3 linked regions of the Homo sapiens genome follow. The protein of the gene in region 2 purifies or fractionates together with the protein of the main gene of each other region. This does not show direct contact. Each region holds a gene or a part of one and is shown on either strand. Other genes may lie near its edges.

The links.
Region 1: the proteins of CXorf66 (region 2) and CRYBG1 purify together in Homo sapiens (affinity purification with mass spectrometry; one large-scale study listed by BioGRID and IntAct). This does not show direct contact.
Region 3: the proteins of CXorf66 (region 2) and PRUNE1 purify together in Homo sapiens (affinity purification with mass spectrometry; one large-scale study listed by BioGRID and IntAct). This does not show direct contact.

Annotation. Positions count from the first base shown.
Region 1 is NC_000006.12:106,569,460-106,572,517, reverse strand, and holds the end of CRYBG1 (beta/gamma crystallin domain-containing protein 1), read right to left. Parts: 3' UTR 523-3,058; downstream 1-522. Other genes in the region: RTN4IP1 (NAD(P)H oxidoreductase RTN4IP1, mitochondrial isoform 1 precursor), read left to right, coding at 415-522. UniProt on the Homo sapiens protein: May function as suppressor of malignant melanoma. It may exert its effects through interactions with the cytoskeleton.
Region 2 is NC_000023.11:139,955,479-139,959,135, forward strand, and holds the end of CXorf66 (uncharacterized protein CXorf66 precursor), read right to left. Parts: intron 2,740-3,657; coding exon 2,586-2,739; intron 1,262-2,585; coding exon 418-1,261; 3' UTR 250-417; downstream 1-249.
Region 3 is NC_000001.11:151,018,331-151,021,987, forward strand, and holds part of PRUNE1 (exopolyphosphatase PRUNE1), read left to right. Parts: intron 1-136; coding exon 137-339; intron 340-3,657. UniProt on the Homo sapiens protein: Phosphodiesterase (PDE) that has higher activity toward cAMP than cGMP, as substrate. Plays a role in cell proliferation, migration and differentiation, and acts as a negative regulator of NME1. Plays a role in the regulation of neurogenesis.

The sequences.
Region 1 (3,058 bases), on a different chromosome or scaffold from region 2:
GGGCTTACTGACTCGTACCAGCAGAGGCATAAACATACCACGTGGAGAAAATGGCAGGTAGAGCGTTTTTGCAAAGCATGGAATCTGGATGAGGGCTGAGCTCAGGATGCTATTGGTCTTCGAATGCCGGAGTGGGAGCTGTTGAACGGTTCTAAGTAGGAGAGTGAAAGACCAGCATGGAGGAGAAGTAAGACTGGGCAGTGGGGTGGGAGGGGCCATAAAGAGAGAAGCAGCAGTGAGGCAGGAGTGGAGGCAGCATCATGGCCCTTGTGAGAGCCTGACCTGGGTCCACTGGAGAGACACTTGAGAGAGACTGTGGCTTGAGGGACACCGTCAAGAAACTAATTAGCAATGTCATCTGCCTTGAAAGATGTAGGCTTTTTTATCCACCGGTCAACCTCTTATGTTTTACAGATCCGGCCAGTTATTGAACAAACCTTTCCTTTTTCTAAAGTTCCAGAAGCCTTCCTGAAGGTGGAAAGAGGACACGCACGAGGAAAGACTGTAATTAATGTTGTTTAAATAAAAATGCAGTTTAGTGATTGTTGACGTTCTTATTTGGTGAGTGCCTGTGAGCCCAAATTTTTTTCTAGCCATCCCTTTCAAACATTTTTCCAGATTAGATTATACATTCCATGATACAAGCTTTAAAAAATAAACACACCATTTTGGCCAGTAATTGATATAAAAATATCAGCACTTGGATTTGTCTGTAGTCAGTAGAAATTCGAAGTTTTTTCAAGCTGTTCCTTCACACTGGCTTTGCAGGTTGTTGTGGCACCTTCTGTTTTACTAGCTTAAACTACTTTATTGTCTTTTTTGTTTTAGAGACAGGGTCTCGCTGTGTCACCCAGGCTGGAGTGCAGTGGCACAATCACAGCTCACTGCAGCCTTGACCTTAAGCGATTCTCCTGCTTCAGCCTCTCAAGTAGGTAGGACTACAGGTATGCATCACCACACCCAGCTAGTTTTTTTGTATTTTTAGTAGAGACAGTTTTGCCATGTTGCCCAGGCTGGTCTCAAACTCCTGGGCTTAAGTGATCCACCATGTCAGTCTCCCAAAGTTCTGGGATTACAGGCGTGAACCACCCTGCTGGGCCTGATCGTCTTAATGTACAATACTAAAACTTTCAGTGTATAGATGGATGTTGGCATGAAGAGATAATTTAAAGCTGGTTCCTTCTTGAATTCATCACTGAGCAGCTTTCTAACTGCCAAGGTTTCCTTTTTTGTTCCTCCACCATAATGTGGTCACCACAGCTCTTAAAGTTCTAAATCTCTTAGTGTCATATATAAAAATCTGCCTGGTGATTCATTTGTTTATGCTCTTAATATTGAAAGGTGAGAGCAGAGTTTCTAACTTTTTAAAACCCTTACATCTTGCATAAGGATTAGGCCTGTTTCGGCAATTGAAACATGCTTCTCTGAGGGCTTTTCCATGGAAATTGCAGCCTTCCAATGGAGCCCAAAGCTTGCCACTTTGATGTCAAATGTTTACATTTAGATATCTCTCCAATCAACCCATTGCAGTGTGCACTTCGAATATTCATTTACGGTAAGTGTTTTTACTTCCTAATATACTCATCCTCAGTATTGCACCTGATATGCTTGCTTGTAACTTTTGATGTAGACCTGTTTTGAGATTTCTGCTTGGTTTATTCCTGTTAGACACTCGTTTGGTAGCATGTATGTTAGATGTAGGCTTTTCTCTAAAATTGTTGGTCTGGTCTTACTACCGAGTTATTGCAAAAGAAAAAAAAATCTGATTTTCCAGGTGTAAATACCAGCTGCTCTTGACTTCCATCTGGAGCAGCCTCAGCTCTTTTCCTGGAGGGCTCCCAGGTGGTAGTGGGAGTAAAATACTTGAGCCAGGACCTCACTCATCCTCGTTTCCACTCAGAAACTATGGAGTTTGGAAAGAGAGTGGTCAGCAAATCTTTCTTGCTATTATACCAGCACCCCTCAAACCTGCTTCATCCTAATCAGACATTTGTTTCTAATCTGCTAGCTGACTCTCTTTGAAGGGTGAGATGAGGGCTACTGAATGGACTCTCAGATTTCATCAACATAGTTAACCAGAAGCAAGTTTATTTAAGAGATCAGTTCAGCACAGGCTACTGTAGAATGTCTTACCCCACCATATTGTAATGGTATGCACAAAAGGCCTAAAATCAGAGCTATATATCTAGGAACAAGACAGATATGTTGGATGCTGTTGTACATGCACCAATAATATTTTAAAACAAGACAAACTATTCCAGTGACCATAATTGCCTACCATAGACTCCAGAGAAGATCAGCATTTTAGAATTAGAAACACACTTGAATAGATGGAAAAGAAACAAGCTGTTCTACCTGTGACAAGAGCACCAGTATTGAGTGATGAGGACAAAAAGAGGAAGAATATATTCAAGGAAATGTTTAGCACTTTTGTTCAAAGCTAGAACCCACTGTTGGAAGAGCAGCGTATGGGCTGGTGTCTTGTCAGTTGTTAAGCAGTTTGTTTGCATTTTGAAATGCTTACTGCAGTTGAGGATTCCAAGATTGCTTGAAGATTGATTTGACTCCGGTCAAATCAAGACTTGACCAGCAACATCCCTAAAGGTCTCTTTTCCTTCACTTTCTGGGGATAATTAATTGCTGGTCATCCTCTTGAGCCTTTCACACCTCGTTTAGTGGCTATAGTGCCCCCAAGACCTGAGGCTGTCCACCAACAGCTATACCCTGAAGCATGGCTGCAGAACACTGCAGGGAAGGCAGCCCCATGCAGGCCATGTGTGGATGCAGGTGGATAGGAGGACAAGAAATTAGGCTAAAAAATCTGAGTTTAGCAAAAAAGTATGTAACATTGCTTCAGCACTTGTAGATGAGTAAGGATGGCTCATAAATTAGGTCATAATAGTGTTCCAGTAGCAGCTATAAGAAAGGCATTAAACAACCCTCATTTGTGACATTCTAGGGCAGCCCATGGATGAGTTAAAATAATTCAAATCCTGGCTGGGCGCAGTGGCTCAGGCCTGTAATCCCAGCATTTTGGGAGGCCGAGGCGAGTGAATTG
Region 2 (3,657 bases):
GTAGAGACGAGATTTTACCACGTTGGCCAGGCTGGTCTCGAACTTCTGACCTCAGGTGATCTGCTCACCTCAGCCTCCCAAAGTGCTAGGATTACAGGTGTGAGCCACCGTACCCGGCCCCATCTTGCAATTTCTTTCTAGGTTTGTGTGAGTGTATGTTTATGGTTCTTATCCAAGTGACCAGGTCTAAGTAAGAGACATCAAAAGATCCTTGTGCCCCCTAAAATGAAATAATAATTACAATAGTAATTTATGTCATGCATTTTATTGATATTTTTAAAATAAATCGCCTCCAAGACAGATATGGGTGATCTTGATAGTGATTTTTCCCTCTACTGGTTTCTTAAGGGATGATGAGCATAAAATAGTTGGTATAAGTTTGCTCTTTCACACTTGGATTTTATTTTTGTTGAGCTCCTAATCATTTAGGGTTACTTCAGAGGTGACTTGATTGTACCCTCTGTCACACGTAATGATTATAACTTTATCACTGTCAACCTCACTATAATATTTCATCGTATCACTGTCATTCACATGATCACCGTATGCATTGTTCCTGGAATCTAACTTACGAAAGGACCTGGAAGAGGACTTGACTTTGCTTGAAACATGTAGGTTTTGAGTGTTTTTCTCCTTTGCCTCAGAAATATCATTGACCAAAGGCCTATAAGTTTTGGCAACAAGATGTTTTTTCTTGTAGGGTTGACAAGTTTCAGCTAATTCAGAGTTGGATAATAAGGCTGCCCTGCCTAGACTCACTGACCTTTTTGGATTAAAATGTTTGGGAGGCTTAGCCAATTCCTGTGGACCGAATGGCTTGGATGGTGAGATTTCATTTTGTGGATGAGATGAATAAAGTGGCTTGAATAGCTGAGGTGGCCTGACTGGCTTATCTGAACTGGCTAGCTTACACGCATAGTCTAGCTTACATAATTTTTCTAGGCTGCCTTTCTTATGTGCCTTTTCCAGGTGAGATGACTTGCTTAATTTTTTTGAGCATGATGACTTGGATGACCTTTTTGGATATGATGGCCTAGTTAACTTTCCTGCACTGTTTGGTATGGATGGCTTTTGTAGACTTGAGGGTCTGATTAATTTTTCTGTGCTGGATTGTGCGGATGCCCTTTCTGGACTCGATGAATCAGATGACTTGTCTGCAGTAGATAGCATGGGTTGTGTTTCTGGACTGCATTGAGAGGCTGTCTTGGCTTCACTGAATGATGTTTTAGATGACTTGGCTGCTATGCCTTTTTTCTTGACCCTGAAAGTATAGAAAATTTGGAGTATAATGATTTAAAACAAAAGAGACCTATTACTATTATCGGAGAACGTATGGTACTGCTTAGACCTGTGGTCTTTTGGGGCTTTAATATGAAAACTGAACACAGTAAGAATCGGAGTGTGACGGCTGTGTGTGGTGGTTCACACCTGTAATCCCACACTTTGGGAGGACGAGGTGGGCAGATCACTTGAGGCCAGGAGTTCGAGACCAGGCTGGCCAACATGGTGAAACTCCATCTCTACTAAAAATACAAAAATTAGCCTGGTGTGGTGGCGCACACCTGTAGTCCCCAGCTACTTGGGAGGCTGAGGCAGGAGAATCGTCTGAACCTGGGAGGCAGAGGTTGCAGTGAGCCGAGATCATGCCATTGCACTCCAGCCTGGGTGACAAAGTGAGACTCTGTCTCAAAAACAAACAAACAAAAACACAAAAACAGAATTGGAGTGGTGAAAGCCACAACTAAGGTTATAAATATGGACTCTTGTTTAATGCTTTTTCTTAAGAGCATTTTACTATTTAACCACATTAGATAACCATATAATCCACATATAGAATTACACAAAGTTATTTCAAATCTGCTGTAAAAAGAGAGAAACACACACACACACACACACAAAGAGAAAGAGAGAGAGAGAATGAACCTCACTTATTTCAGAATTAAACTTTTTATAAAAAAGTCACAGATTGATAATGTATCACAAGAAAAAAACTGTAGGAAAAGTCATTGTTTTTGTATCATATTTACAACATCAAGTTATCGGTGCATATTTAAATTCATAACATTCCTCTGAAACTAAAGGAATACAGTACTGGTACCACGTTTTAGTCACCAGTCTTTGGAATGGGATATTTTTAGGGAACTAGTATATAAAAGGCAGGCACTGAGATCATGAGAGCAACAACAGTGAATAATTTTTCATGTGATTAAGTCTTAAAATGGTAGATTATCCAAAATGTTTTATTGTCTTTGAAAAACAGAGACCCAATTCCCTCTCTCTTTCTCTTCATTTTCGCACTCTTATTTGGATATTCATGCCCTCTTTTCCTGCACTGAATTTATAATGCAATTAATGTCCTGGAGTTCAGCTGAACCTTGAACAAGAGACACTTTGGCTGAAGTTAATAATGTACTAGAGAATATTTAAGAGCTGATATAATTTAAGGGAAAATATTCACCTACAAAAGGTTGGTAGCTCTTCAGAAGTCTAAAGTTAATATTGAGTAACCTGAACAACAATGAAACCTCCGCTATATGTACACACACACACACCTCGCACTCTTAATTTAAAGGAGTAAAACTTACATTCCTGCTTTGGACGCATCATCGCTCAGACAATTATAATGGAGATAACAAAAACAGATAAAGACAAAAACCATGATGATAATACCAACTAAAATGAGTAGATTTCTTCTAAGGTAGTTCAATTTTGTCTGCATTGATTCAACAGGTTTATCTCCTGCAAAGAGATTGTATAATCAGAGAAGGTGTTAAGTAACCAAGTTTTTTTCCACATTGATAGTGGTTTGATAGTGTAGATCAAAATAACATTTCTTCATGAATTATTTTTTAAACCTGATTAATTGTACCACTGTTATGTTTTTACCTCATGGATCCAGCCAGTCCAGAAGCTAAATCTGGGAGGCATCGCTGACTAATCCATACCATTACCTGGGTTATCCCTGAATCTTGGCTTGCTTATCACATTACCCAGGTTTTTGAATCTGTGTGTGTGTGTCTTGCATGTATAAGTGTACTTGAGTGTTAACGTGTGTGTGAATGTGTGTGTGTAATTGAAAAAGGATGTGATAAAAACAAACCTCTGTTAAAAACCTACTATATGCTGGAGATCTGGCAAGATGGCCAAATAGGAACAGCTCTGGTCTGCAGCTCCCAGCGAGACCAATGCAGAAGGTGGGTGATATCTGCATTTCCAACTGAGGTACCCAGTTCATCTCACTGGAACTACTTAGGAGTACCCAGTTCATCTCATTGGGACTGCAATGGGTGCAGCCCAAGGAGGGCGAGCAGAAGCAGAGTGGGGCATTGCCTCACCTGGGAAGTGCAAGGAGCCAGGGGCCTCCTTCTCCCAGCCAAGGGAAGCAGTGAGGGACTGTACTATCCAGCCCAGATACTACGCTTTTCCCATGGTTTTGGCAATCCACAGACCAGGAGATTCTCTCGTGTGCCTACAACACCAGGGCCCTGGGTTTCAAGCACAAAACTGGGTGGCTATTTGGGCAGACACAGAGCTAGCTGTAGCAGTTTTTTTTCCCCCCAGTGGCACCTGGAAGCCCAGTGAGACAGAACCATTCACTCTCCTGGAAAGGGGGCTGAACCCAGGGAGCCACGTGGTCTCGCTCAGCAGATCCGACTC
Region 3 (3,657 bases), on a different chromosome or scaffold from region 2:
TTTATAGACTGGGTACTTATGGCTTTGAGAAAGGTGGTAACTTACCTAAGTATGTCTCCTTTGGTCCCAGTAGTCTTGTTACTTTTTCCTGTCATTATAAAACCTTGTGATACCTTCTTTTCACTTTCCTATCTAGACAACTGAGGCTGAGGAAGTCTTTGTGCCAGTTTTAAATATAAAACGTTCTGAACTACCTCTGCGAGGTGACATTGTCTTCTTTCTTCAGAAGGTTCATATTCCAGAGAGTATCTTGATTTTTCGGGATGAGATTGACCTCCATGCATTATACCAGGCTGGCCAACTCACCCTCATCCTTGTCGACCATCATATCTTATCCAAGTAAGCACAAGGAAATTAAATTGCTACCTATCATGTACCATGCTGGGCTCTGATGAGTGAGATATAAAGAGAGGAAGAAAGAGTTTTTGCTGGCTGGGCATGGTGGCTCATGCCTGTAATCCCAGCACTTTGGGAGGCCAAGGCGGGCGGATCACCTGAGATCAGGATTTTGAGACCAGCCTGGACAACATGGCAAAACCCCGTCTCTACTAAAAATATAAAAATTAGCTGGGCGTGGTGGCAAGTGCCTGTAATCCCAGCTACTTGGGAGGCTGAGGCGGGAGAATCACTTGAACCTGGAAGGTGGTGGTTGCAGTGAGCCGAGATCGTGCCACTGCACTCCAGCCTGAGCGACAGAGCCAGACTCCGTCTCAAAAAAGAAAGAGTTTTTGCTTTCAGGGATCTCATAGGCTAATCATAATTGATAGGTCATATTAGATATAGAAAAACAACACAAAATATTGTCAGTTCTGCAGTTATATGTATGTCTGTGGCATATAGACATACCCTATAATAAAAAGAAATAGAACGTGTTGAGTTCAAACTAAAGGGTAACTCAAAAATCATTTAAATCTGCCTTTGGTATCATTATTTAAGATTTTGTGTGCCGGGTGTGATGGCTCACGCCTGTAATCTCAGCACTTTGGGAGGCCAAGGCAGCCAGATCCATTAAGCTCCAGGAGTTCAAGACCCGCCTGAGCAACATGGCAAAACCATGTCTTTACAAAAAATTTTTAAAAATTAGGCACGGTGGTGCATGCCTATGGTCCCAGCTACTCGGGAGGTTGAGGTGGGAGGATCACTTGAGCCCAGGAGGTCGAATCTGCAGTGAGCCAAGATCACACCACTCCACTCCAAGCCTGGGAGACAGAGGGAGACCCTGTCTCAAAAAAAAAAAAAAAAAAGATTCTGAGACAGATTTATTGTAATAGAAACCTTTGAAAAATGTTTGCAATTCTCTTTTTATTTTTTTACTTATTATTTATTTTTGTACTTACTTATTAAATTTTTTTTAGAGAAGAGGGTCTTGCTATATTGCCCAGGCGGATCTCAAATTCCTAGGCTCATGCTATCTTCCTGCCTCTGCCTCCCTAAGTGCTGGTTTATAGGTGTGAGCCACCACACCTGGCCTGCAACTCTATTTTTAATTTTAATTTTAATTAATTATTTTTTTTTGAGATGGAGTCTTGCTCTGTCACCCAGGCTTCAGTGCAGTGGTGTGATCTCGGCTCACTGCAACAACCTCTGCCTCCTGGGTTCAAGCGATTCTCCCTGCCTCAGTCTCCTGAGTAGCTGGGATTACAGGTGCGCGCCACCATGCCCAGCTAATTTTTATATTTTTTACTGGAGACAGGGTTTTGCGCTGTTGGCCAGGCTGGCCTGGAACTCCTGACCTCAGATGATCTGCCCACTTTGGCCTCCCAAAGTGGTGGGATTACAGGCGTGAGCCACCACACCTGGCCTATTTTTAATTTTTAAAAAGTGGCCTGGTGTGGTGGCTCACGCCTGTAATCCCAGCACTTAGGGAGACCTGTCTGACCACTATAGCGAGACCCTGTTCTCTAAAAAAAAATAATAAATACAAAAATCTATAAACATAGTGTGACCTTGTCTCTACTAAAAATAAAAAAATTTGCCAGGTGTGGTAGTGCATGCCTGTAGTCCCAGCTACTTAGGAGGCTGCTGAGGTGGTAGGATCACTTGAGCCTAGGAATTGAGGCTTCAGTAAGCCATGATCACATCACTGTACTCCAGCCTGAGTGACAGGGCAAGAACTTGTCTCCAAAAAAATTTTTTTAAGTTATCAAAAGGGCCAGGTGTGGTGGCTCACACCTGTAAACCCAGCACTTTGGGAGGGTGAAACAGGAGGGTTGCTTGAGCCCAGGAGTTCAAGACCAGCTTGGGCAAGATGGTGAGATCCCATCTCTACAAAAAAATTTAAAAGCACACAAAAAGTTAGCAAAAGTTTTTCTACATAAACTCTTACGATTTTAGAATAATGTATTATGTTAGAATATATAAATATCTCAGGCCAGGCGCGGTGGCTCATGCCTGTAATCCCAGCACTTTGGGAGGCTGAGGGGGGCGGATCATGAGGTCAGGAGATGGAGACCATCCTGGCTAACATGGTGAAAACCCGTCTCTACTAAAAAATACAAAAAATTAGCCGGGCATGGTGGCGGACGCCGATAGTCCCAGCTACTCGGGAGTCTGAGGTAGGAGAATGGCATGAACCCGGGAGGCGGAGCTTTCAGTGAGCTGAGATCATGCCACTTGCACTCCAGCCTGGGCGACAGAGCAAGACTCCATCTTAAAAAAAAAAAAAAATAGCTGGGCGTGGTGGCTCGCGCCTGTAAGTCCCAGCTACTTGGGAGGCTGAGGCAGGAGAATCGCTTGAACCTAGGAGGTGGAGGTTGCAGTGAGCCAAGATCGCGCCACTGCGCTCCAGTCTGAGCGACAGAGTGATGCTCTGTCTCAAAAAAAAAAAAAAAAAAATTAGCCAGGCCGGGCGTGGTGGCTCACGCCTGTAATCCCAGCACTTTGGGAGGCTGAGGCGGGCAGAATCACCTGAGGTCAGGAGTTTGAGACCAGCCTGACCAACATGGAGAAACCCCATCTCTACTAAAAATACAAAATTAGCCAGGCGTGGTGGCACATGCCTGTAATCCCAGCTACTCAGGAGGCTGAGGCAGGAGAATTGCTTGAACATGGGAGCCAGAGGTTGCGGTGAGCCGAGATCATGCCATCGCACTCCAGCCTGTGCAACAAGAGCGAAACTCCGTCTCAAAAAAAAATTTTTTTTAATCTATAAATATCTCAATAATGTCTGTTTAACAAATGTACACATTTATAATAATTCCATCCCTAATTTACTACTGGAAAAAACTACCAAAAAAGCAACACGATTATGTGACTTTCCTAAGTCTGTTTGGCTCCTGCTAATATTTTTTTCTTGAGCACATTGTGGTTATAGCAGGATACTGACAGAAGGCAGCCTGAGAGAGCATTATCCATCTATGGATTCATTCAGTAATAAACTTTCCTTTTTTTTTCTTTTTTTTTTTTGAGACAGAGTTTTCTCTTGTTGCCTAGGTTGGAGTGCAATAGTGCAATCTAGGCTCACTGCAACCTCCGCCTCCCGGGATAATTTTGTGTGTGTGTGTGTGTGTGTGTTTTTAGTAGAGATGGGGCTTCACCATGTTGGTCAGGCTGGTCTTCAACTCCTGACCTCAGGTGATCCGCCCACCTCGGACTCCCAAAGTGCTGGGATTACAGGTATGAGCCACCGTGCCACCACCTTTTTTTTTTTTAAGAGAT